Linked DNA regions of Homo sapiens. The protein of the gene in region 3 purifies or fractionates together with the protein of the main gene of each other region. This does not show direct contact. Each region holds a gene or a part of one and is shown on either strand. Other genes may lie near its edges.

Region 1 (8,317 bases), on a different chromosome or scaffold from region 3:
CAGCAATGCCATGATCCCCGCGAAGCTGGGGCCGTCTAGCCTCGGAAGGGGCGCCGGGCCTGTCTCCGGCTGCCCTTCTACTCCACCGCCGCGTCCTCGCAGACGCCGACCTCACCGTCTGACCCAGGAGTGGCATGCACAGATCAACCCCGGGCGAGTAGCACTCTTAACAGAGGACACACACCCCGCCGCCGCCCTGTAAGCCAGCTAGGACGCCGCAGCACGTCCCACGCCCCGCTCATCTCCGCCCGCAGCCACGTGACTCGGGGCTCCAGTGCTTCCGCCCCCGAGCCGCTGGCTGAACGGCCGCTACCCTGCGCAGGCGCGCTGAGCCTTGGGCGCGCGACGCTTGCGTCTTTGGGTCCTATCCTCTGGGTCCCCGACCCCCTTGGTCACCTAACGCCTACCTGACTGGACCAATCTAGGACCCCTTTCTTGATGTTTGTTTCCTGTGTGTCATTGACCCGATTTGCTAGACAACTTCTCTCTGGCTGTGCAGACACTGTTAGCCAATTTTACGTATTAAATGCTGAGCAAATTTAGTAGCCCTCGCCAGAGGGGGGAAAGAACTTATTGAAAGCATGTTTTTATTTTTTATTTTTGGAAAAAGACATTCAAAATTTACTTTCCAACAGACAGCATCATCGGGTATAACTACAAGGGTTTCTCCTTAGATCATACATTCACAAAGCATTATTAGCTCAACAGTGAGAAAATGTGTTCTCTAAAGATGTCCCCTTGACAATGTAAACGAGTGCTACTGTGTTCACTTACAACTCGAGAAAAAAACGTACAACCTGGCAAAACCGTATATATATACAGCTGTCTCTAGGGGTGCATACAAATATATATATATGTTTTGGATCAGGTCAGGTGCAATGACTAAGAGATAGAACTTTGAGTAACAGTCTTGATCGACAGTAAGGTCCTTCACACAGAAGTCAGGTTCTTCCTTTCTCCTTCCTCCTTAAGTCGATAAAGAAAGATTATATATTGTAGATATTACAGGTACAAAAGGAGATTTTTAAAAAAGGAATCACAAAAACATCTTGAATGTCCAGCTGTTCCTGCCAATACATCAATTCTTAGTTTTAAGACAGAGTCTAGGATTAATTCAGCAGTCATAAAATTAAAAAGAGAGACTGTGGTACAAAAAATTTAAAATAAATGAGGAAGTAGGGCATGGTGGCGTGGGCCTGTAGTCCCAGCTATTTGAGAGACTGACGTGGGAGGATTGCTTGAGCCCAGGAGTTGGAAGCCGGGATGGGCAACATAGTGAGACCCCCATCTCTAAATTAAATAAATAAATGAGGTAGGGAAATTAAAACTTTCACACCCAGGACATGCCTGTTCCAACTTTGTAGCCTTCATGCAATGCTCAAGGAAAAAGTCTTCATAATTCCTTGGCATAAGTCACACCAAGAAAAGTTTTTAAAACTTAGTATGCGAACCTGTGATAGGCAACACGCCCTTCCCTGAGTTTCCTCTCTAGAATGAAAACCCAGTTCTTCAAGAGTAGGCACTGAGGAACTAAATTAAGTTGCCTGAAATTTCCCACTCAGGTGCCCACCACTTCTGGTGTTCAGGAAGAGAGGCATTTGGGAATTGTGAGGAGCACATTGGCACTCTTGGGGCTCCAACTGAACTGTATTTAAATAAGCAGCAACACACACATTGACTCCCTAAGGACTCAAAGGAGTCCAATTGGCTGGGTGCAGTGGCTTATGCCTGTAATCCCAGCACTTTGAGAGATCGAGGCGAGTGGATCACTTGAGGTCAAGAGTTTGAGACCAGCCTGGCCAACATGGCAAAACCCCGTCTCTACTAAAAATACAAAAATTAGCCAGGCGTGGTGGCAGGCGCCTGTAATCCCAGCTACTAGGGAGGCTGAGGCAGGAGAATCGCTTGAACCCAGGAGGCGGAGGTTTGCAGTGAGATATCATGCCACTGCACTCCGGCCTGGGAGACAGAGCAAGACCATGTCTCAAAAATAAATAAATAAATAAAAATTAAAAACAAGTCCATTTGAGGGCATCCTAATTAAGAGTCTAAGGTTGAAGGAATTTTGTAATTCCACAACCTTAGTGGGTTTCTGTGCTGTGTTTTTTAAAGGACATTCAAAAAACAAGGCACAACAAAAGACAAATACAGAGTGGGGGACATGCAAAACAAGTTCCTAAATAGATGACAGACCTTGTCCATTTACCCACATACGGTTACGATGGAAGCATACAATATTCCTCCTCCTCATTTAGGCTAAGTAGTTTTCCCACTGTTGTTCAACAAATAGGTAACAGTCTTTGGAAATAGTCACCCTGGGTTGTACAAAGTTTCTATATATACAGTTTGTTGCAAGTAACAAAACTACTTTTAAGACTCACTTATTTCCCCTCCCCACCCCAAATCTAGTCTGTATTTGTTTTGGTATGAATTTTTTGTTTTTATTTTTTGCAAAGTAGCATAGCAATAATCATGATTACAGGACTGCATGAGCTGTAAAAATCATTTGCATATTAGTAAGAATAAAGAAAACAGGAAGACAAGATGAATTCTTTAGAGAAATAAAACAAAAAAAGCACATAATATAGAACTGATCAAATTCTATGATCCCATCTCAGGCTTCCCAAGCCAGCTGTCTCTAGGGGTGGCATCTATAAATACATATTCAAGAAATTCCTTAGATGATTAGCAAGTTTGGGGAATTACTGTTTTCTATTAGAATCACATTCTTTTAGTTGTCTCCTGTTTATAAGCCCTACACTCTAGCCTATTTGGTGTATTTGTTGGTTCATAATAATGCCCAGCATTTATCATTTCTTGCTCATACTGATTTCTTAATCTATAGAGCCTCATCCTTCTTGTGTCACTCTTTGCCTTTGCAAATTCAGTGCATTACTCAAACCCCAAACCAATACTACTTCCTGAGAGTCTTTTCAGCTGGAGAGAGGTTCTTCCTGCTCAGACTACTTGTAATTCTTTCTTTTTTTGGAGACAGTGTCTCGCTCTGTCCCCAAGGCTGGAGTGCAGTGGCGTGATCTCGGCTCACTGCAACCTCTGCCTTCCAGGTTCAAGAGATTCTCATGCCTCAGCCTCCCCTGAGTAGCTGGGATTACAGGCACCTGCCACCATGCCCGGCTAATTTTTGTATTTTTTTAGTAGAGACAGGGTTTCACCATGTTGGCCAGGCTGGTCTCAAACTCCTGACGACAGGTGATCCACCTGCCTCGGCCTCCCGAAGTGCTGGGGTTACAGACGTGAGCCACTGCACCCAGCCACTACTTGTATTTTTAAATGACACCTTTTAAATGTACTTATGGTATTTCCCCTATTAGAAGAGCGGGATCTGTAATCTCCAATATATTCAGTGCTTACTGTGTGCCAGGTACTACGCTAAGTCTTTATATGCTCTTATTTTGATAGGAAGTTTGCTAAATGAAAGTTAAACTAGAAATGTCTTCAAAATAACTAAAATAATAATAGCATGTTATGTTAGAAAAATTCTTGTTATAGTCATCTTCTTAATTTTAATATTCAAAAATACTAAATTTTATGATAAATAAAAAATTACGTACCTGGCTTAAAAATAAATCTACTTTCCATCATCTTTATGATTTTAAAATATCAGAATGCTTATGATTACAGAAAAAACTAGAACAGAAAATTTAATTTTCTTATTACATGAAAAAGAGACAACCCTGGAATTTGTAAAAACAGAAAATTTTAATTTTTATATAGTTTTATTAACAAGCACACAGAGAAACGCTGATATCCCTACATGTTGAAAGTGTCACGATAATATTCTGAAAAGTACAAAATTCAAATGTCTAAATTTTACATGGTAATGCAAAAGAAAAAATTACTAATAACAAGTATATTTTATTAAAAACTTCATTTATCATGAAAATTAGTGAGATTACAAAGATTAAACTATAACTGAATTTCATACCCTAATGGGTCAAGTCCCTGGTCTAGGAGCATTAGAGAGGACTCTCTGAGCTTCTGCAGCAACTTCCTTAGCTCTTCCTTAGAAAATACCTGATTTTTAAAAAGAGAAATAAGAATGAGAACAAAGACAAGTAGACAAGTATGAACTTAGTTACCTAATCGATCTGATTAGCTTCATATAAGAAGAAATGCCTCTTTAAGATTTATGTAGCCAGAGCCTAGTAAATTAGAGTGGTTCAGGAATTTCAAGGTGAATTCTCAGAGTCAGTCTATATATTTCTAACTGCTTACAAATATACACACATTTTGGGAAAAAAGTACAAACATTAAAACATTAAAACTGGACTATTACTTTAAGAAAATCCAAGAGCAATTACAAATGTAAACACATCTTCACAAAATTAATATTACTACAGAGCATATCAAATCATTAAAATTTAAAACTACAAGGCTCTAGAACTTACCAGGTACAGTTTGTGGCGCTCAGAGGATACCATATCTGCTAACTGTAGGCATTCCTGATACTGACCAGTACTGTGCAATATCGTATGAAGCAGAAAACACAACATTGGCAGACAAAGCTTTCTCAGTAAGACCATTTGATGTGTTCTTTCATGGTCTTCTTTGGCATCCTACAAACAGACATCAATAAATCATTTTAACAATTTAAGCTAAAGATCCTTACAAAAAGAAAAGCCAGGTACTGAATCAAACCCAGAATGTAATTGGTAGACAAGATTTAACAGCAAAAAAGTATGAAGATGAACAACGTAGACTACAGAGAGGTATGACAGTGAAAATAAAATGCTTCTGCATTTGTATTTCTAATAAACTTACTATGTCCTGAATAAAAACATGCATAAAAAGAATGAGTTGGAAACTGAATATCATTAGAGCAAAAATCAGAACAGAAAACAATCACCACTCCTTTGGATGTTTATACATATAAATAAAGATAGCTCTAAGGAGGCCTGAGAGGACACAACAGACTGACAGCAATGACTGTTGCTGGGAAAAAGACGATGTGGGGAGGGGCACACAGGGAGGGTCAACTTCATTGCAGACTACTTTGCTTATACACATGGAAAATGGAATTTATAATTTCTTTATATAATTTTTAAAAACAGAAAAACAGAACCTATAGATTTGAATAATACAATTAATGAGTCAGAACAGATATATAAGGAAAACAAGCAGAAAAAACAATTGGCATTCCTTTATACATACATGGATCTTTCTTAAAATCGATGTGAACAGTAAAAGTACAGAAAAAAGAGTAAACCTCTTATGCCCACTACATTTACTTACAAAAAATTTGAAAATTAAAATAATTAGAAAGTAACCAACCACATAATTTCTTTTTTTTTTCTTTTCTTTTTTAACCTTTTTCTTCTTTTCTGAGACAGCATCTCACTCTGTCGCCCAGTCTGGAATGCAGTGGTACAATCATGGCTCTCTGAAGCCTTGATCTCCGGGCTCAAGCAATCCTCCTACCTCAGCCTCCCAAGTAGCTAAGAACCACAGGCATGTGCCACCATGCCCGGCTAATTTTTCTATTTAAAAAAAAAAATAATTTTATTATTTGTAGAGATGAGGTCTCCCTATGTTGCCCAAGCTAGTATCGAACTCTTGGGCTCAAGTGATCCTCCTGCCTCAGCCTCCCAAAGTGCTGGGATTACAGAAATTACACACTACAATTTCTGAAATAATCTTAAAAATAGGAAGGAAATCAATAGCACTAATAGTGTAGAAAAAAAAAACAGGACAAGCTAAAATAATAACTGCTCCTTTGAAAAGCCTAATGGAATACCTAAAAGTATCTTCATGTGAGAGGCTATATTAAATTGCTAAAACATTTTTCAAATGGACATGTAAGTGGAGGGGTTAATCAACAACAAAGTATAATCTGGTAATTATACCAAGGAGTAATTGTACTAATTTGGGCTAATCTAGGTCAGGTTTCCAAACATAGGAAAAATTACTATCAATATTTTGGTCTTGTTTGAAGCATAAATACATAAAAGCAAATATTAAAGTGCTTCTTTACAAGGGAAGCACCTTTATTTCTTTTCTCAAATAGATACTTGCTACCTTCAGAGGTGGATTTAAAATGCTTCAAGGTTTTACTTGTAATTCATATTAGTGATCCCAACCTAGAACCCAGTAAGAATAAGAGAACTGCTTCTTTCTGGACCTTTCCATTTGTGCTCCAATGTAGTCTTTCTGTCTATGTTAAAGAGGCCGGGTGCCCCTGGCTTCTGACTCCTTGTTGCCCGAAAAGCAGCAGGTTACTTTCTTATCTCACAGGATGGACCCAGACTTGCTTTTACTAAATCCTTTTGCTGCCATAATATCAGAGTGTGCTGCAGACAATCTCTTCTGCTAATTATAATGAATTCCGATACTAGCGGGCGGGCTGCCAGCAACTATCCAGGGTAATGGCTGACAGACCCAGCAAATTGCTACAAGGAAAAGCAAATAAACAGCTCTGCTACAACTGAAGACATTTTTCTCATCTGAATGAACAAAAGCTTTGAAATAGCCGGTAAATATGTAAAACAGACGGATTATTTCCACTAGGGATATTTCCACTTTTTTTTTTTTTTTTGAGACGGAGTCTCGCTCTGTCGCCCAGGCTGGAGTGCAGTGGCGCGATCTCAGCTCACTGCAAGCTCCGCCTGCCGGGTTCACGCGATTCTCCTGCCTCAGCCTCCCGAGTAGCTGGGACTACAGGTGCCCGCCACCACACCCGGCTAATTTTTTGTATTTTTAGTAGAGATGGGGTTTTACTGTGTTAGCCAGGATGGTCTCGATCTCCTGACCTCGTGATCTGCCCACCTCAGCCTCCCAAAGTGCTGGGATTACAGGCGTGAGCCACCGCGCCCCCCCATGTAGTGCCTTACATGTGAGAAAAACTCATTACCTAATATGTGTTGATAGCAAGAGTTGATTGGAACTGATATTACAGCTATTCCTAATCTGAAGACAGTACATTCACCTCAGTAATGCAGTATCATTCATTTACTAAGTACCACTGAAAGCCTCCCATGTGCTCAGCATTATTTTAAGTGCCAGAGTCAAAGAAATAAAGAAAACAAGGTTACTCCCTTCATGAAGGTTATATTCTAATGAGGGTAGACATACAAAAAGCAAATAAATTAATATGTTTTATATCAGATTGTGCTAAGTGCTATGAAGAAAACTAATGTAGGATATGGAGATTAAAAGGGACAGGTGTGTGTGTGTGTATACACATGCATACATGCTATTTTAAATAGGGTGGTTGGGTTGGGGAGAGGTTCTTGAAAGAGATGACATTTGAGCAGCTGCTGAAAGAAGTACAAAGTCATCCATGCACCTATCTTGGCGAAGGAGCATTCTAGGCAGAGGGGAACCAATGAAGAGGCCCAGAATGCCAGGATATAGTGATGGGAGAGCAGTAGGACACAAGATTAGGGGGTTAGTTTAAAAAAAAAAGAACAAAACAAAAGTATGTATACTCTTGTACATCAAGAAAAGAAAGATTTTATTCCAAGTGCAATAAGAAGGCATCAGAAAGTTCTGGGTAAGACAGTCGCATGTATTTTATTCTGAAAGGGTCACTAGTCCATCTGTATAAGGAACGATTGTATAAAGAACAGTGAGAAGCCACGGAAGACAGTAGAGGCTTGGACTAGAATGTGCTAGAGGTAGAGGTAGTGAAAGGTAGGTAAAGATGACCTGCCTGCTCCATTCTCTCTGCCATTCCTCTGTGCCACCAGCCCCAACACTAAGGGGACTATTCCAGTTATTTAAAAACTTGAGGGGTAGCTATACGAAAACAGCACATAATGCTAGGGCTATTGTGTACAGCCGTGCCTTGTACAAGGGTGGCTGGCCAAGCAAGTAAGTGGGGCTGAAATCTAGCCTGTGTTCTGTCTTACATATTGTGTGCACTTGCCATGGAACCTATCTATGTAAGGGAAGGGAATTCCAATTTTTTTTTTTTTTTTTTGAGACGGAGTCTCCCTTTGTTGCCCAGGCTGGAGTGCAGTGGCGCAATCTTGGCTCACTGAAACCTCCGCCTCCCTGGGTTCAATCGATTCTCCTGCCTCCACCTCCCTAGTAGCTGGGATTACAGGCGCGAGCCACCACACCCGGCTAATTTTTTGTATTTTTATTTTTATTTTTGAGACAGAGTCTCGCTCTGTTGCCAGGCTGGAGTGCAGTGGCGCAATCTCGGCTCACTGCAACCTCCGCCTCCCAGGTTCAAGTGATTCTTCTGCCTCAGCCTCCCAAGTAGCTGGGACTACAGGCACGTGCCACCATGCCTGGCTAGTTTTCTGTATTTTTAGTAGAGACAGGGTTTCACCATATTGGCCAGGATGATCTT
Region 2 (8,317 bases), on a different chromosome or scaffold from region 3:
CTCCTTACTGTGAAAATATATACATAAAAAATTAGGATAATGGAGAATTTTAAGTTACAAGTAAGGTAATATAGACTCTTTTCTTTAGGGGAACACCAACACGAATGTTCCCACACCACTCCATAACTGAGTCTGTGAACTATGATGTGAAAACGTTTGGATCTTCTCTTCCTGTTAAAGTCATGGAAGCCCTAACATTGGCTGAAGGTAGGTGTCATCTTTCCATTTACCTATATTAGCAGTTTAAAATGGAGCCTAGATGTGGCATAGAGATTAAATTTATGTTTTCTCTAGTATACCTTTACGTAAATGGTGAGAGATGGGTGGCCTGTCTAGTGTTTTTTTATTTTTATTTTTTCGAGACAGAGTCTCACTCTGTCACCCAGGCTGGAGTGCAGTGGTGTGATCTCAGCTCACTGCAACCACCACCTCCCAGGTTCAAGCGAGTTTCCTGCCTCAGCCTCCCAAGTAGCTGGGATTATAGGTGTGAGCCACCACGCCCAGCTAATTTTTTGTATTTTTAGTAGAGACAGGGTTTCACCATGTTGGCCAGGCTGGTCTTGAACTCCTGACCTCAGGTGATCTGCCCTCCTTGGCCTCCCAAAGTGCTGGGATTACAGGCGTGAGCCACCACATCTGGCCACCTGTCTTAGTTTTTTTTTTTTTTTTTTTTTTTTTTTTTAACTGTAATTGAGATGTATAATACATTCGAGAAGGAGAATGAGTTCATTTGAACACAATCAAATTAAGTCTTTAATGGTTTTAGGTACTGTACAGTAGTCCCCCATTATCTTTGGGGGATATCTTCCAGGATCCCCAGTGGATGCCTGAAACCTTGTATAGTACTAAACCTTATATATACTGTGTTTTTTTAATACATACACACCTATGATAAACTTTAGTTTATAAATTAGGAACAGTAAAGATGAACAACAGTAATAATAAAGTAGAACAATTATAACAATATACCAGCAGCACTACTCTTGTACTTCGTTTGGGGTCATTAACTAAAATGAGAATATAAGCATTGCATTACTGCGACAGTTCATCTGGTAACTGAGACAGCTACTAAGTGACAAACAGCTGGATAGTCTCAGGGGTGTCCAATCTTTTGGCTTCCCTGGGCCACTTGGAAGAAGAATTGTCTTGGGTCACACATAAAATACACTTACGATAGCTGATGAGCTAAAAATAAATAATGAAAAGGTCTGTGTATAAATCTTATCATGTTTTAAGAAAGTTTACAAACTTGTGTTGGACCGCATTCAAAGCTGTCCTGGGCCACACGTGTCCCTGGGCCATGGGTTGGACAAGCTTGGGGTATACAGTATGGATATGCTGCACAAAGGGTTGATTCACAACCTTTAGGCAGGACAGTATGAGATTTTATCACTTTACCCAGAACAGCATGCAATTTACAACTTAGGAATTGTTCATTTGAATTTTCCATTTAATATTTTCAGACTACGATTGACCACAGGTATTTGAAACTGCAGATAAAAGGGGGAAATACTGTATATGCAAAATTCAGTCCTGTTTACAGAGTTGATCAGGTTTATGAAGTTTCCCGTGAAACCCCAAAACTGGCACCTCATGTTATTGGGTTTAATAATACAGTAAAATCAAGTCCTACCTCCATTTCTGGATCCTATGTAGCATCCCAGAGGCTGTGTGCACAAATTTATGACGTTACCATTGTCGTGGTGTACCTTTAGAAGCGTCTGTTGGTGGAGAATTAGTGTGGAATTTTGACAGATACAATCAACACAAGCTTAGAAAGGCAACTTTAAAGATGAGCAGTTGGATGACACTGGAAGAGCAAAGTTCAGAGCAGCCTTAATATCTGCTGAAGTCATTTTTATTAAGGCTTGAATTCTAGATCTTTGTGATTTTTCTGGAACAGTATTTTTCAAATTGTAGGGGTGACCAAAATTTAGCGGTTCTTGACCAGCATTTAAAAAAAGAAGAAATAGAATGCATCTCATATGTTTAGTAAATTTTGTTCGTTTTACTTAAATTGTATATGGGTGTATCGTGATGTAAAATGTATTATACTGTGAATAACTCTATTTACTGTATAACTTAATAACAGTAAAAAAAAAATGCTGAAATTACTCTGTTTTAGAAGAAGGAATATATCTCATCAACTGGAACTTGGCACATCTTGCCTGTAGGTCCTTGGGAGCTTTAGGGATAGTTGTTTTCAGACAACTACTAACCTTTCTATACATTGTTCTGTTTTAAATAAATAAATGTATATATATATATTGGTATATATGTGTATATTTTTCCCCTCTAAAAATTTCAGTTTACATTTAAACCTTTTAATGTACTACTCATATTTTAACAGACTAGATTAAATAACACAGCCCCAAATCTAGAAATTCAGAGAGTCCTTAGAAATTAGGATATATAAAACAAAGAGGTGTGTCAACTTGAAGAACTCTTCCCCACTTAGAAACCTGCCAACTACTGTTAAGTCAGCCCTTAAAGGCACACCGGTCGAGGATCTGGAGTTGTAGTGCTTTCAAGAAAAAGAAAATTACTGAGCAGATAGTTCAGTTGAGCAAAAAGCCTCACTCAGCCTGGGCTTGGTTTGATATTTTTGCTTGTACATTGTCTATGCCTTTTACTTCACCCTTCTACCTTTCTGTAAGTAAAGAGCAAAGCTCAACTTAATAAAATTTCCAGGGCTGTTAACACATTTGTGGAGGTTTACCACCAATACTTAAGATATGTGCTAATTTAGTTTTGTCACTTAATAGAGAACGTAACTCTTTGTCTCCATGTACTAAATAATTTATCATTCCTTTAAGGAGCTCTTATTTGAAAATTATGTGCTTTTGGTCCTCCAAAAGCACATTGTTTTCCTTGAAATGTTTTATATAGTTAATGAGTTTGTTATTTGTTTTACTTTATCGATATAATTATAAATGTTGCTAAATATTTCTTTTTTGTTTGTTTGTTTTGAGACAGAGTCTTGCTCTGTTGCCCAGGCTGGAGTGCAGTGGCGCGATCTCAGCTCAATGCAACCTCTGCCTCCCAGGTTCAAGTAATTCTCCTGCCTCAGCCTCCCGAGTAGCTAGGATTACAGGTGCACGCCACCATGCCCCCATGCCTGGCTAATTTTTTTTTCTATTTTTGGTAGAGATGGGGTTTCATCATGTTGGCCAGGCTGGTCTCGAACTCCTGACCTCATGATCCACCCACCTCGGCCTCCCAAAGTGCTGGGATTACAGGCGTGAGCCACCCTGCCTGGCCTCTCTTTTGTTGTTTCTGCTTACTTATTTTTTGATATGGAGTCTTGCTCTCTTGACCAGGTGGGAGTGATGTGATCATGGTTTACTGCAGCTTCAATCTCCTGGGCTCAAGTGGTTCTCCTGTGCCTCAGTCACCCTAGTAGCTGGGAAGTGCACTGCCAAGCCTGGCTATTTTTTTTTTTTTTTTTTAAGAGAGAGAGTCTCACTATGTTGCCCAGGCTGGCCTCAAGCAGTCCTCCCAGGGTGGCCTCCCAAAATATTGGGATTTATAAGCATGAGCCACTGTGCCTGGCCTAAATATGTCTTATAGGAAATAAGCTATCTGGTCTGTTTGTAACAAAAAATTAAGGAATATTAAATGTCCCAAATACACTTTTTGCCTTTAGATATATTTCTTTTTTCTTTCTTTTTTTTTTTTTTTTTTTTTTGAGATGGAGTCTGGCTCTGTTGCCCATGCTGGAGTGCAGTGGCACGATCTCGGCTCACTGGAACCTCCACCTCCCAGGTTCAAGCGATTCTCTTGCCTCAGCCTCCCAAGTAGCTGGGACTACAGGCACGTGCCACCACACTCAGCTAATTTTTTGTAGTTTTAGTAGAGTTGGAGTTTCACCATGTTAGCCAGGATGGTCTCGATCTCCTGACCTCGTGATCCTCCCACCTCGGCCTCCCAAAGTGCTGGGATTACAGGCGTTAGATATATTTCTAAAGTTGGTTATCAGAGTTAATAGATCTATTGTTTTTGGTGTTGATAATTTTGGAATATTCAAAAGTATTTGTTGTGAGGTAGTCGTTTCTGAGTGTGCCAATTACTTTTTTTTGATAAAGCGTGTGGTAATAAAGATTTATACTATAAGATTAATCACCCACCTCATTTTTTCCTTTAGTCGATGACCAGCTGACCATTAACATAGATGAAGGTGGATGGGCTTGTCTGGTGTGCAAAGAGAAGCTCATTATTTGGAAGATTGCTCTGTCACCTATTACTAAGGTAATGGCTCTTTAGAGAGCTGGAACAAGATAGAGGAGAGGAATGCCAATTGACTTTTCATTTTTACCCTAATTTTTTTACAGTTGGAGGATAGTCAATAGGAAACTACTTAGGCATTAAGAGTTTGCATTTTCATAGTGATGTGAAATAATGAGCATGCATACACATTTGTGTATTGGGAAAAAAGTTTCCCCCTTTTGAAGATCTGTGTTGTTTACATTTAATAAAATTAGAGTCATTGATATTTCCAATGAATATAATGCTAATCCGTCTGCCTAATGAAGTATCAGACTAAATGCTATCCACATAAGCAAATGAACTTTGAGTTTGCGTATTTCTGAGAAGACAGAACTATGTTTTGTTGAACCTACTGAATGATGCTTAATAAAATAAGAAAATATGATACCAGTTGCTAGTTAAACTTTTCACTTGTCCACTTCCAACAGTGGGTTATCATTTGCATGTCTAGTAACGTATCCTCAGCAACCTTTTTCTGTTTGTTACAGCTTAGATACACTACTCTCTTCTACCAGTCATTACTTCCTTGGCCATGTTCCGTTGGAACTCAGGGCTCCTGCTTACCTCAATTCTTCACTTCTGCTGAACTCTGTGTTACTGCTGCCTAGAAAAGGGTGTATGTGGTTAGGAGTAATAGGTGAGGGTGAATTCCTGGGGGACATACTGAGTTAGCTGCGGGATCCTGATATTTGGCTGAGAGTCTAAGAAATTGTTTCCTAGGTAACTTGGTATAATTACTCTTTGGTCATGCTAATTTTAAATGTCAGATGAACAAATCAAGAGTAAATTGGGAAAGTTCCATAGGAAGCCTAAGCACTCATCTTAACCTTACTTAGTCTTCTCTTAACTGGACTTTTCTAGCCCAGGAAGAGGTTAGGATAGTTGTTCTTCAGAGTTTGGTCTACCTTTAAGTTTTCATGATTCAATACTCTTAAGATACTTTGTTTTAAAATTACTGAAAGCCTGATTAAAAGGAGATGTGAGAAGAAAGAATATTTGTAGAATGGTGTTTCCAGCAGTGAGTCAGAATCTAAAATATGCAGAGAAGGGAAATCAGATGCATCTTCAAAATACTGGATTTGATGTGAAAGATTTTCTGTTTGGGTTTGTTCTACAGTTATCCGTTTGCAAAGAACTTCAGCTGCCACCTAGTGATTTCCACTGGAGTGCCGACTTAGTGGCTCTTTCTTACTCTTCTCCCTCAGGTGAAGCACATTCTACTCAGGTAGGTGACTTAAAAGCTTATTTAAATAAACTTTTTACAACAAGGACATCCTAAAGTTAGAGGAATCATCCTCTTTGATTTTGAGATATAACTATAAACCTATAGAAATCAAGATATTGTGGTATTGGCAAAGAGAGCTACACACATAGGTCAGTGTAACAGAATAGAGAATACAGTTATAGATCCACATAAAGGCACCCATTTGGTCTTTGATGAAGGTGCAAAAGCAATTCAGAAAGGATGGTTTTTGACGATGATTTTTCTCTGTATCAATGCATAGTGTAGGAACATTTGTAATTTTAAAATTACAAATGACCAATTTGTATTGTATTGTATTGAATTTTCCCTTAAACCTCATACCTTGTTACAAAGATTAATTTGAAATGGGTCATAGATCTAAATGTAAAACAGTAAAACTTTTAGAAGAAAACAGAAGAAAATCATCATGACCTGAGATTAGACAGAGTTCTTGGAAATCACCAAAAGCATGATCCATAAAAGAAAAGTTTGATAAAATTAATAATAAAATTAAAATAAAATAAAAATTTAAAGCGTTGCTTTGCCAAAGACAAGAAAATGAAGAGACAAGTTACAGAGTAAGAAGAATTTGCAAATCATGTATCCAGCAAAGGACTTGTATCCAGAATATTTTTTAAAATTCTAAACTTGATAAGAAAACAATGCAGTTTAAAAACAGGGGCTAGGACTTGAACAGACACTTAGTGAGGATATAAGGATGGCACATAAGCACATGAAGAGATGTTCAGCATCATTAGCCATTAGAAAAATGCAAACCAAAACACTGGTGAGTTCTTATTTCTGATTTTTCTTGATCAAATAGTAAATTGTCCTGTTTCTTTGTATCATTGCCATCAGACTGCTGGTTTTTGGGTTCCTCTTTTATTGTGATTGCTGATTGTTGTGATCTTGTTTTGAGGCTGTTGCTGTCATGGTTGCCACCAGAGAAGGATCTATCCGCTATTGGCCAAGCCTTGCTGGTGAAGATACCTACACAGAGGCTTTTGTAGATTCGGGAGGTGATAAGACTTACAGTTTCCTAACAGCAGTGCAGGTATACCACGGATATTCCTTTATATTTATTGGAAAGCTGTGATTTGGCTTGGAAATAAATTTTTGTTTTTATTTTTAAATAGAGGTGGGATCTCCTTATGTTGCCCAGGCAATTCTCAAACTCCTGGGCTCAAGCAATAACTCCTGCTTTGGCTTCCCAAAGTACTGGGATTACAAGCATGAGCCACTGCACCCCAGCCGTGGAAATGAGATTTGATGACTAAAAATGTGGGGTTTTAAAGAGACTATAGAGGCCGGGGAGGGATCAAAAAGAGACAAGGAAGAGAAGAATGTAAGGATCTATGATTTGAACAGTTAGACAAGGGAGGCTCTTCTCACAGGACTCCAAAATATCAATTTCAGATAGTAGCTTGTGATATGAATTTCTTTTAGAAACATTTTATAAGATTGGCTTAAAAACTGTCAGACACTATAAAGAATGGCTTGCATTATCTTCTTTGTAGGTTCACAAAGAAACAAAATCTGGCTGAGCATGGTGGCTCATGCGTGCAGTCTCACCACTTTGAATGGCTGAAGCGGAAGGATTGCCTGAGGCCAGGAGTTCAAGACTAGCCTGCGCCATAAAACAAAACTTTGTCTCTACAAAAAAATTTAAAAATTATCTGGGCATAGTGGTGTGTGCCTGTAGTCCCAGCTGCTCAGGAGGCTGAGGCAAGAGGATCTCTTGAGCCCAGGAGATTGAGGCTGCAGTGAACTATGATCTCACCACTGCACTTCTGCCTGGGTGACAGAGCGAGACCCTATCTCTAAAAAAATAAAATAGCAAACAAAAAATATAAATAAATAAAATCTGATAACCTAATTTGTTGAATCTGAAATATGATGAACTTGTAGTTTAAAAATCAGAATTTAAAAAATATGCAATTTTTTTCTGCTACAAAAGTTGTTTTTTTTTTTTTTCTTTTTTCGAGACACAGTTTTACTCTGTCACCCAGGCTGGATTGCAGTGGCGCAATCTCAGCTCACTGCAACCTCTGCCTCCTGGGTTCAAGCAATTCTTGTGCCTCTGCCTCCCAAGTGGCTGGGATTACAGGTGCGCACCGCCACGCCCAGCTAATTTTTGTATTTTTAATAGAGACGGGGTTTCACCCCGCCTTGGGCTCCCAAAGTGCTGGATTACAGGTGTGAGCCACCATGCCTGGCCAGTTTTTTTCTTATGAGAGTTTTTCTATGTAGGATTAATAATATTAACTGAATGGATTCTGAAATATATTACTTTAATAAAATAACAACGTTCTATTTTGTATTCTTTTAGATTTATTTCAATTACGATGATTTTTCTCTGTATCAAAGAATTTTTCATTTTATCTTAGCATTCGATGCTAAACTGAACTAACCTCATAATGTTTTTTCACAGGGAGGAAGTTTTATTTTGTCTTCATCAGGAAGCCAACTAATTCGGTTGATACCTGAGAGCTCAGGAAAGATTCATCAGCATATCCTGCCTCAGGGGCAAGGCATGCTTTCAGGAATTGGTCGAAAAGTTTCTTCTCTTTTTGGAATTTTATCTCCTAGTAGTGATCTCACAGTAAGTTTATAAAATAACTATTTTACAAGCTTATTTCTTAGTTAAATCAATAAGTTGAAAGTATCCTCTGAATTTAGTATTCCTCCATATGGACAGTAGCTTATGCGAAATAAAACCTTTGGTCTTTTTAGTGAACTATTTTTATTATGATGAAATGAGATCATACTAACCTTCTCCCATAACTTGTAACACTAAAATCTTTAAAT
Region 3 (7,032 bases):
CAGGAGAATTGCTTTTACCCAGGAGACAGAGGTTTCAGCGAGCCGAGATTGCACCATTGCACTCCAGCCTGGATAGCAAAAGCGAAACTCCGTCTCAAAAAAAAAAAAAAAGGGCGTGCTTTCCTCATTACAGTCAGTTGTAGGTTATGGTCAGCCAAAGACCATGCACTTGTAATCGGGGTTTATGTGTTTTTGCATTTTCCAAGTTTCCTGTTTTTGAGGGTTTGTCTGTGGCTCCAAAGTTCTTTTGCTTATTCATTTATTCAGAAATATTTACTGAATGCCTACCATGTGGTAGGCATTCTTCTAGGTGTTAGGACGTGTAACAGTGAGCAGAACGAAATGTCGAAACGCATAGAGCAAATATTCTAATAGTTAAAAAAATAGATAATGTATCAGTAAGAGTCCAATTAGAATGTCAGAAACTACCTTAGATGTAGAAGGAATTGGTCTCACATGTGTTAGAAGGGCTGGGAAAACAAAAGGTAATAGGAGGGGTGCTGGGAGAACAAATAGGAAGAAAAGGGAAAACCCAGAAATAGTAATTGTTAGTACCCCTGCTACTTGACTGTTGAAAATGCTGTAAAAGTTTGTTCTGAATTAGGAGAAAAGGCGCTCCCTCAACCAGGCTGAAACTACCACCAGTGTTGTTGCCAGAAACCTGGAGCAGGAAGGAGCTGCTTCTCCCTTCCGCCTTCCAGTCACCCACCATTAATACCTGCTATTGGCAAGGCCCATCTGGATGGCAGATGGCAAAGCAGCCTGGAAAGTGGAGTTTACCAACTTCTACCTCCTACAGTATATAGTGGAGCACAGCAAAGTGGAAAAGGAGGCCGGGCGCGGTGGCTCACACCTGTAATCCCAGCAATTTGGGAGGCCGAGGTGGGCAGATGACCTGAGGCCAGGAGTTCAAGACCAGCCTGGTCCAACATGGTGAAACCCTGTGTCTACTAAAAATACAAAAATTAGCTGAACGTGGTGGTGGGTGCCTGTAATCCCAGCTACTCTGGAGGCTGAGGCAGGAGAATTGCTTGAACCCGGGAGTTGGAGGTTGCAGTGAGCCAAGGTCACGCCACTGCACTCCAGCCTGGGCAACAGAGCAAGACTCCATCTCAAAAAAAAAGAAAAAGGAAAATAACATGGCCAAATACACTGCTAATTACCATGAAGAAGAATACAGCAGAGTAGGAGGATAAAGAATAAAGACAGGGGTGAGGGGAGCTACTCTAGTGAGAGTCAGAAGAGGCCACTTGGCAGAAGGAACATTTGAGCAGAGACTTAAGAGAAGTGAAGGCATAAGTGACATGAAAGCATTCCAGGCAGAGGAAACAGCAAATGCTGAGGGCCTGAGACAGGCAGAGAACTGCAAGGACACCACGGTTGGAGCTCAGGCAGCAGGGTACAGTGGTGGGAGATAAGGACTGGTGGCTGAGGAGCCCTGGGACTTTGTAGCCCATGATAAGGACTTTAGACTTATGGGAGGGGGAGGAGAAAAGTGGAAAACAGGGAGATGAGGAAGGAGTCTTATCACAGTGGCTTGAATAATGTGTTAATCTTTACAGCGTCCAAGAGCAATGTAAAATGTAGGGGCAGTAAAAGATAAACAGAAAAACTAAGGGGAAAAAAATTCTAAAACTTCTTCAGAAAAATTCTGGAGCGGAGAGCATGTGTGGAGCATGCATGCATGTCCATGCTATAACTTCATCTACAGAGAAACAAACAGTTTCATCTAAGGATTAACTAAGTATGTACTTCGTTTTTACTTCCTTCCTCCCCTAACCGCACAGTCTTGAACTTGCAAGTTTACTTTTAAGGAACCTTGGTTAGACTGGAAATAAAACTTTATTCTGTGTCTACTATTGCAAGGCACAGTATTAGACACTGTGAAAAAGTAAAACATATAAAATATGCATCCTGCTCTTAAGACATATTTAGTCATGGACAGAGGCATGGATAGTTCAATTAGGATATAAGAATTGTTATAAAGTAGTAAATTAATGGTACATACAAGTGCTGAGGGTTCAAGGAAAGAGAAAAACATGAAGTAGAGGTTGTCTTCAAAGTTTTCTTAGAGAAGGAAGTTCAGCCATATTTTAAAGGATCAGCAAGATTTTAAATGTACTAATCTTTAAGCTTCAAGACATAGGGACTTGGCACAGAGCACTTAGCACAGAGCCTGGCACATAGTAGGTACTCAGTCATTTGTTGAGTGAATTAAATTTGTACTTATTTGATATGACAGCAAGTTGAGAGGAAAGTAAGTTGCGAATAATGACTAAAATTGAAATATACTGCCTCTGCCTCACTTTATTCTATAGTAAGTACAGTGCGCTGTTAGAGATAAAACCTTATAATCTAGTAGTGTTCTAATCTGCTTGTAAGAACATTTATCTAAAAAGCATAAGAATGAAAGATTTGAGGTAAGGCGATTATATTTTAAGAAATATAGTAACAAATATATATTTAGAAATATATTTCTAGAAATGTTCATCTAGAAATATGTCTAGAAATTCTTTCTCATGATCATTTTATTTTGTTATTACCCAAGAGTTTATATTTCCATGTATTACCTACATTTTTGGTTTCTTTTTTTTCTTTCCTTATTCAACTTGTATGCTGGCCGTTTTGCTACCTTTCTGAGACTTTCCATTAAAAGATGAACAGAAAGTCAGTTGAAATCACCTGCTTTTCCTGAAGACTTCGAGTTTGGTATCCATATTATCCCATGGAAATTTGAATATTTAATATCACTGAATAAGCCTTTGGTCCAAAGTGGTGATGTATAATAATGGAATTATTAGCCTATTATTCTGAGAATTAAACACATTGATATCATCACCTTTCTAAATATCAGTAGAAGTTTGAATGTTTACTAATATAAAAATCATCTTGAAAGATTTCTTCCTTTTCTTTTTTTCTCCCAGGAGGAAGAAGCAGTACTTTTTTGTCTCATAGCATTAGTAACCAAGCTAATGTTCACCAGTCTGTCATTAGCTCCTGGCTCAGCACTGATCCTGCAAAAGACCGAATTGAAATCACAAGCTTACTTCCCAGTAGGTCTCTGTCTGTGAACACTTTGGATGTTTTAGGTCCTTGTCTTGTTTGTGGAACCGATGCAGAAGCAATTTATGTTACTAGACATCTTTTTTCGTAGAAGTACTATAATTATAAGATTTCAGATAGAACATGCAATTAGCCTTTTGAAATCCAACTTCTGTGCAAAATTTTAGTATCAGAAAATACGAGATTTGCAGGGGAAACATCAGTAAACTACCATTAATGTCAATGCCCAGTTTTGACTTTTGTTAGCCTGACACTCCCAAACAGTTGTAGAATCCGATAGATGACTGATGGCAAAAGATTGTGAACATGTGGAAGAAAATCAGTGGGATTCTGGTGCTGATGAATAGGTTGCCTTCAGAGTATTATTGACAGACAGCTTGTGGAACTAATTCTTTATTTTTGATGTTGTGGGAATTAACACATCAATGGTGGTTATGGGAACTACCAATGGGTTCCTACAATTTTTATCAGTAGTATGTGGCATATACACCTTCCTAGTGGCAGTTGCCAATGTTAATGATTATTCTTTTTATTGCAAGTATTTCCTATGATCCTTCCACACTTTATTTCCTTAATAATAATAAACTTTTTCAGAAAGAATTGAGTAGAGCAAAAATGACAAAGATGTGTAGCTGTGTTCAATTTTTTTTTTTTTTTTTTTTTGAGGCAGAGTCTTGCTCTGCTGGAGTGCGGTGGTGCAATCTCGGCTCACTGCAACCTCCACCTCCCAGGTTCAAGCAATTCTCCTGCCTCAGTCTCCTGAGTAGCTGGAACTACAGGTGTGCGCCACCACGCCCAGCTAATTTTTGTAATTTTAGTAGAGACAGAGTTTCACCATGTTGGCCAGGATGGTCTCGATCTCTTGACCTCATGATCCACCCGCCTCGACCTCCCAAAGTGCTGTGATTACAGGTGTGAGCCACTGCACCCGGCCTGAAATTTTTTTAAGGTGAAAATGTTTTGACAAGTTCCTTTTTCAGAATAGGTTTTTGAGCAGAACTCTTTCAGCTTGTTAGACCCAACTTTGCTTTTGTTTAGCTTCACAGCATAGCTGAAAGTTGCCAAACTGGACATTGTGCAATAAAGTAGAATTCTATATTGATAAGCAAACTATTTCCAAACTAAAAATGTGATAGATAAAAGTGTGATTAATCAAATGATATGATCAGAGTAAAGAATTTTGCCATTTTGATCCTTTTACTTTGTTTTAGCCACCTATAGTGTTACCAACCATCTTTATCCTTGTCTGCAGGGATAATAATGAACTAATGTAGTGTTTTAAGATAATTTAATGATACTATCTTTCCAAACTTTGTTAGATTTTAAATGTATTATTGACCTGAGACCTTAATGACAAATCACTGCTATTAGACAATTGAAGTGTTCATTTACTTTGTAATTCCAATAATCATAGTTATGGAATTATGGTAAGGTTTTGCTTTTCTGTCCTAATAAATATATATATTTTTTGAGATGGAGTTTTGCTCTTGTTGCTGAGGCTGGAGTGAAATGGCATGATCTCAGCTCACTGCAACCTCCGTCTCTTAGGTTCAAGCAATTCTCCTGCCTCAGCCTCCCGAGTAGCTGGGATTACAGGTGCTCACCACCACACCCAGCTAATTTTTGTATTTTTAGTAGAGATGGGGTTTCACTGTGTTGGCCAGGCTGGTCTTGAACTGACCTCATGATCCACCTGCCTCAGCCTCCCAAAATGCTGGGATTACAGGCTTGAGCCACTGCTCCCGGCTGATTTTTGTATTAGTAGAGACGACAGGGTTTCACCATGTTGGCCAGGGCTGGTCTCGAACTCCTGACCACAGGTAATCAGCCCGCCTCGGCCTCCCAAAGTGCTGGGATTACAGGCGTGAGCCACTTAGTATTTGTAACCATAAGAGAAAGTATATTTTAACAGCATTACATTTCATGCCAATTGACAAGTTTTGCCAATTTTAATAAGAAACTAAGCTTTATGTAATGTAACACCGTAATTTATGAATTTGTTCATTGTCACTGCCTTTATTCATGAAACTGTCAAATAGAGTGTCTTTCAAGGGTTGCAGGATCTTAGAGATAGAAAGTACCTTGGTGATCATCTCCAGCCTAAATTTCATCATCCCTTCTATGGTATTCCCAACAAATTATCATCCAACCTATACTTAAAAACATATGGTGGCCAGGCATGGTGGCTCACGCCTGTAATGCTAGCACTTTGGGAGGCCGAGGTGGGTGAAGCACCTGAGGTCAAGAGTTCGAGATCAGCCTGGCCAACATGGCGAAACCCCGTCTCCACTAAAAATGCAAAAAAAAAATTAACCGGGCGTGGTGGCAGGCATCTATAATCCCAGCTACTTGGGAGGCTGAGGCAGGAGAATTGCTCAAACCCGGGAGGCAGAGGTTGCAGTGACCCAAGATCGTGCCACTTCACTCCAGCCTGGGCAAAAGAGCAAAACGCCATCTCAAAAAATATACATATATAAGGAGATAAAGTTTCCCATTTTCCAATACAGTTTCACATTTGAACAGCCCTAATTGATACAACTTTATGGCAGGGTTTTAGTGTGTGAGTGGGATCCAAAACACTCAATCCTGTAAAAGGGTACAGTCCTATTGTATGTTAACACACTGATGATGTGAGCCTGTGAGATGAGCCAATCACCAGTTGTTATGTTCGAATCTGCTTTGTGTTGGGACGCTTTAATGTCAGGGTTTCACTAAATAAATGAATTTTCATATACTGAACTGAAATTTGCTTCTATCTGTCTTATCTCGGGAGCCACACACACAAAATTCCTCTCATCACATATTCAAATATTCAAAATTGATTATTATAGTCTCTCCAGTGAAGGTTTCCTTCTCTTTCTTTCCATTTTTGGCTAAATCCTTCTTATCCTTCAAGACTCCTTCTAGGTGTCATTTTCTCCAGACAGCTTTTATTGGCCTCCAGCAATCCGGACTAAATTGCACTCTGCTTCAAAAGCCCATTGTGCAGAACTTAAATTGTGCGCAAAGCAGTGTGTTAAGGAGCCTGTCTCCCCCTACTGGGCCACAAGATCAAGAACAGCGCCCATGTCTTCGTGTAACAGTGTTTAACAGTATCTGAACCATAGTAAGCAATGAGTCACTGTTAATTGACCTTGTTTTCACAATCTTGTTTTCCCTTTAAAAATTACTGCTCTTTGTCAAAGGCCTTTTTTTTTTTTTTTGAGACTTTAAGTCTCGCTCTGTCGCCCAGGCAGGAGTGCAATGGCACGATCTCAGCTCACTGCAACCTCTGCCTCCCAGGTTCAAGCAATTCTCCTGTTTCAGCCTCCCGAGTAGCAGGGATTACAGGTGTGCGCCCAGCTAATTTTTTGTATTTTTAGTAGAGACAGGGTTTCACCATGTTGGCCAGGCTGGTCTTGAACTCCTGACCTCAAGTGATCCACCCTCCTCCACCTCCGAAAGTGCTGGGATTATAGGCATGAGCCACCGTGCTCGGCCAGAGGCCTTCTTTTAAGTGTGACTTCCAAGATAAACACTTTTTCATATATTGTCTACCTTGGTGATTATGACAGAAATCTTGCCATCCTGTTAATAGGAATGATATTCCTTTGTAATGCTGTGTCAGCTTTCTGAAGTGTTCACATGTGATACTCCTAAGCCACACTTCCTATATTCGGAAGTTAATACAAATGGTTTTTAATCCTTAATATGGGCCTTTCTTGTTCTAAGAAAAATTTCATTTCAATATAGGAAAGGACTAACTATTTTCTTTGAATCTTTTGTAGAAGCTATTATTTTCTCCATAATTAGCCCAGCGTGCTCTCTCCACTTTCATCCCATTGATTAAGAAAGATGTTTGAGACAGGATTTCACTCTGTCACCCAGGCTGGAGTGCAGTGGTGTGATCCCCAGCTCACTACAGCCTCGATATCCTGGGCCCAAGTGATCCTTCCACCTCGGTCTCCCAAGTATCTGGGACTGCAGGCA

The links.
Region 1: the proteins of NUP43 (region 3) and NUP107 purify together in Homo sapiens (affinity purification with mass spectrometry; 10 studies listed by BioGRID and IntAct, with this or other methods). This does not show direct contact.
Region 2: the proteins of NUP43 (region 3) and NUP133 purify together in Homo sapiens (affinity purification with mass spectrometry; 7 studies listed by BioGRID and IntAct, with this or other methods). This does not show direct contact.

The regions. Positions count from the first base shown.
Region 1 is NC_000012.12:68,738,073-68,746,389, reverse strand, and holds the end of NUP107 (nuclear pore complex protein Nup107), read right to left. Parts: intron 4,578-8,317; coding exon 4,410-4,577; intron 4,036-4,409; coding exon 3,928-4,035; 3' UTR 581-3,927; downstream 1-580. Other genes in the region: SLC35E3 (solute carrier family 35 member E3), read right to left, coding at 1-12. UniProt on the Homo sapiens protein: Plays a role in the nuclear pore complex (NPC) assembly and/or maintenance. Required for the assembly of peripheral proteins into the NPC. May anchor NUP62 to the NPC. Involved in nephrogenesis.
Region 2 is NC_000001.11:229,497,930-229,506,246, reverse strand, and holds part of NUP133 (nuclear pore complex protein Nup133), read left to right. Parts: intron 1-88; coding exon 89-207; intron 208-4,144; coding exon 4,145-4,248; intron 4,249-5,383; coding exon 5,384-5,491; intron 5,492-6,428; coding exon 6,429-6,563; intron 6,564-7,940; coding exon 7,941-8,111; intron 8,112-8,317. UniProt on the Homo sapiens protein: Involved in poly(A)+ RNA transport. Involved in nephrogenesis.
Region 3 is NC_000006.12:149,723,091-149,730,122, reverse strand, and holds the end of NUP43 (nucleoporin Nup43), read left to right. Parts: exon of another isoform or gene 1-604; coding exon of another isoform or gene 605-633; exon of another isoform or gene 634-1,562; coding exon of another isoform or gene 1,563-1,603; exon of another isoform or gene 1,604-1,643; intron 1,644-1,644; coding exon of another isoform or gene 1,645-1,733; exon of another isoform or gene 1,734-2,924; coding exon 2,925-3,154; 3' UTR 3,155-5,808; downstream 5,809-7,032. UniProt on the Homo sapiens protein: Component of the Nup107-160 subcomplex of the nuclear pore complex (NPC). The Nup107-160 subcomplex is required for the assembly of a functional NPC.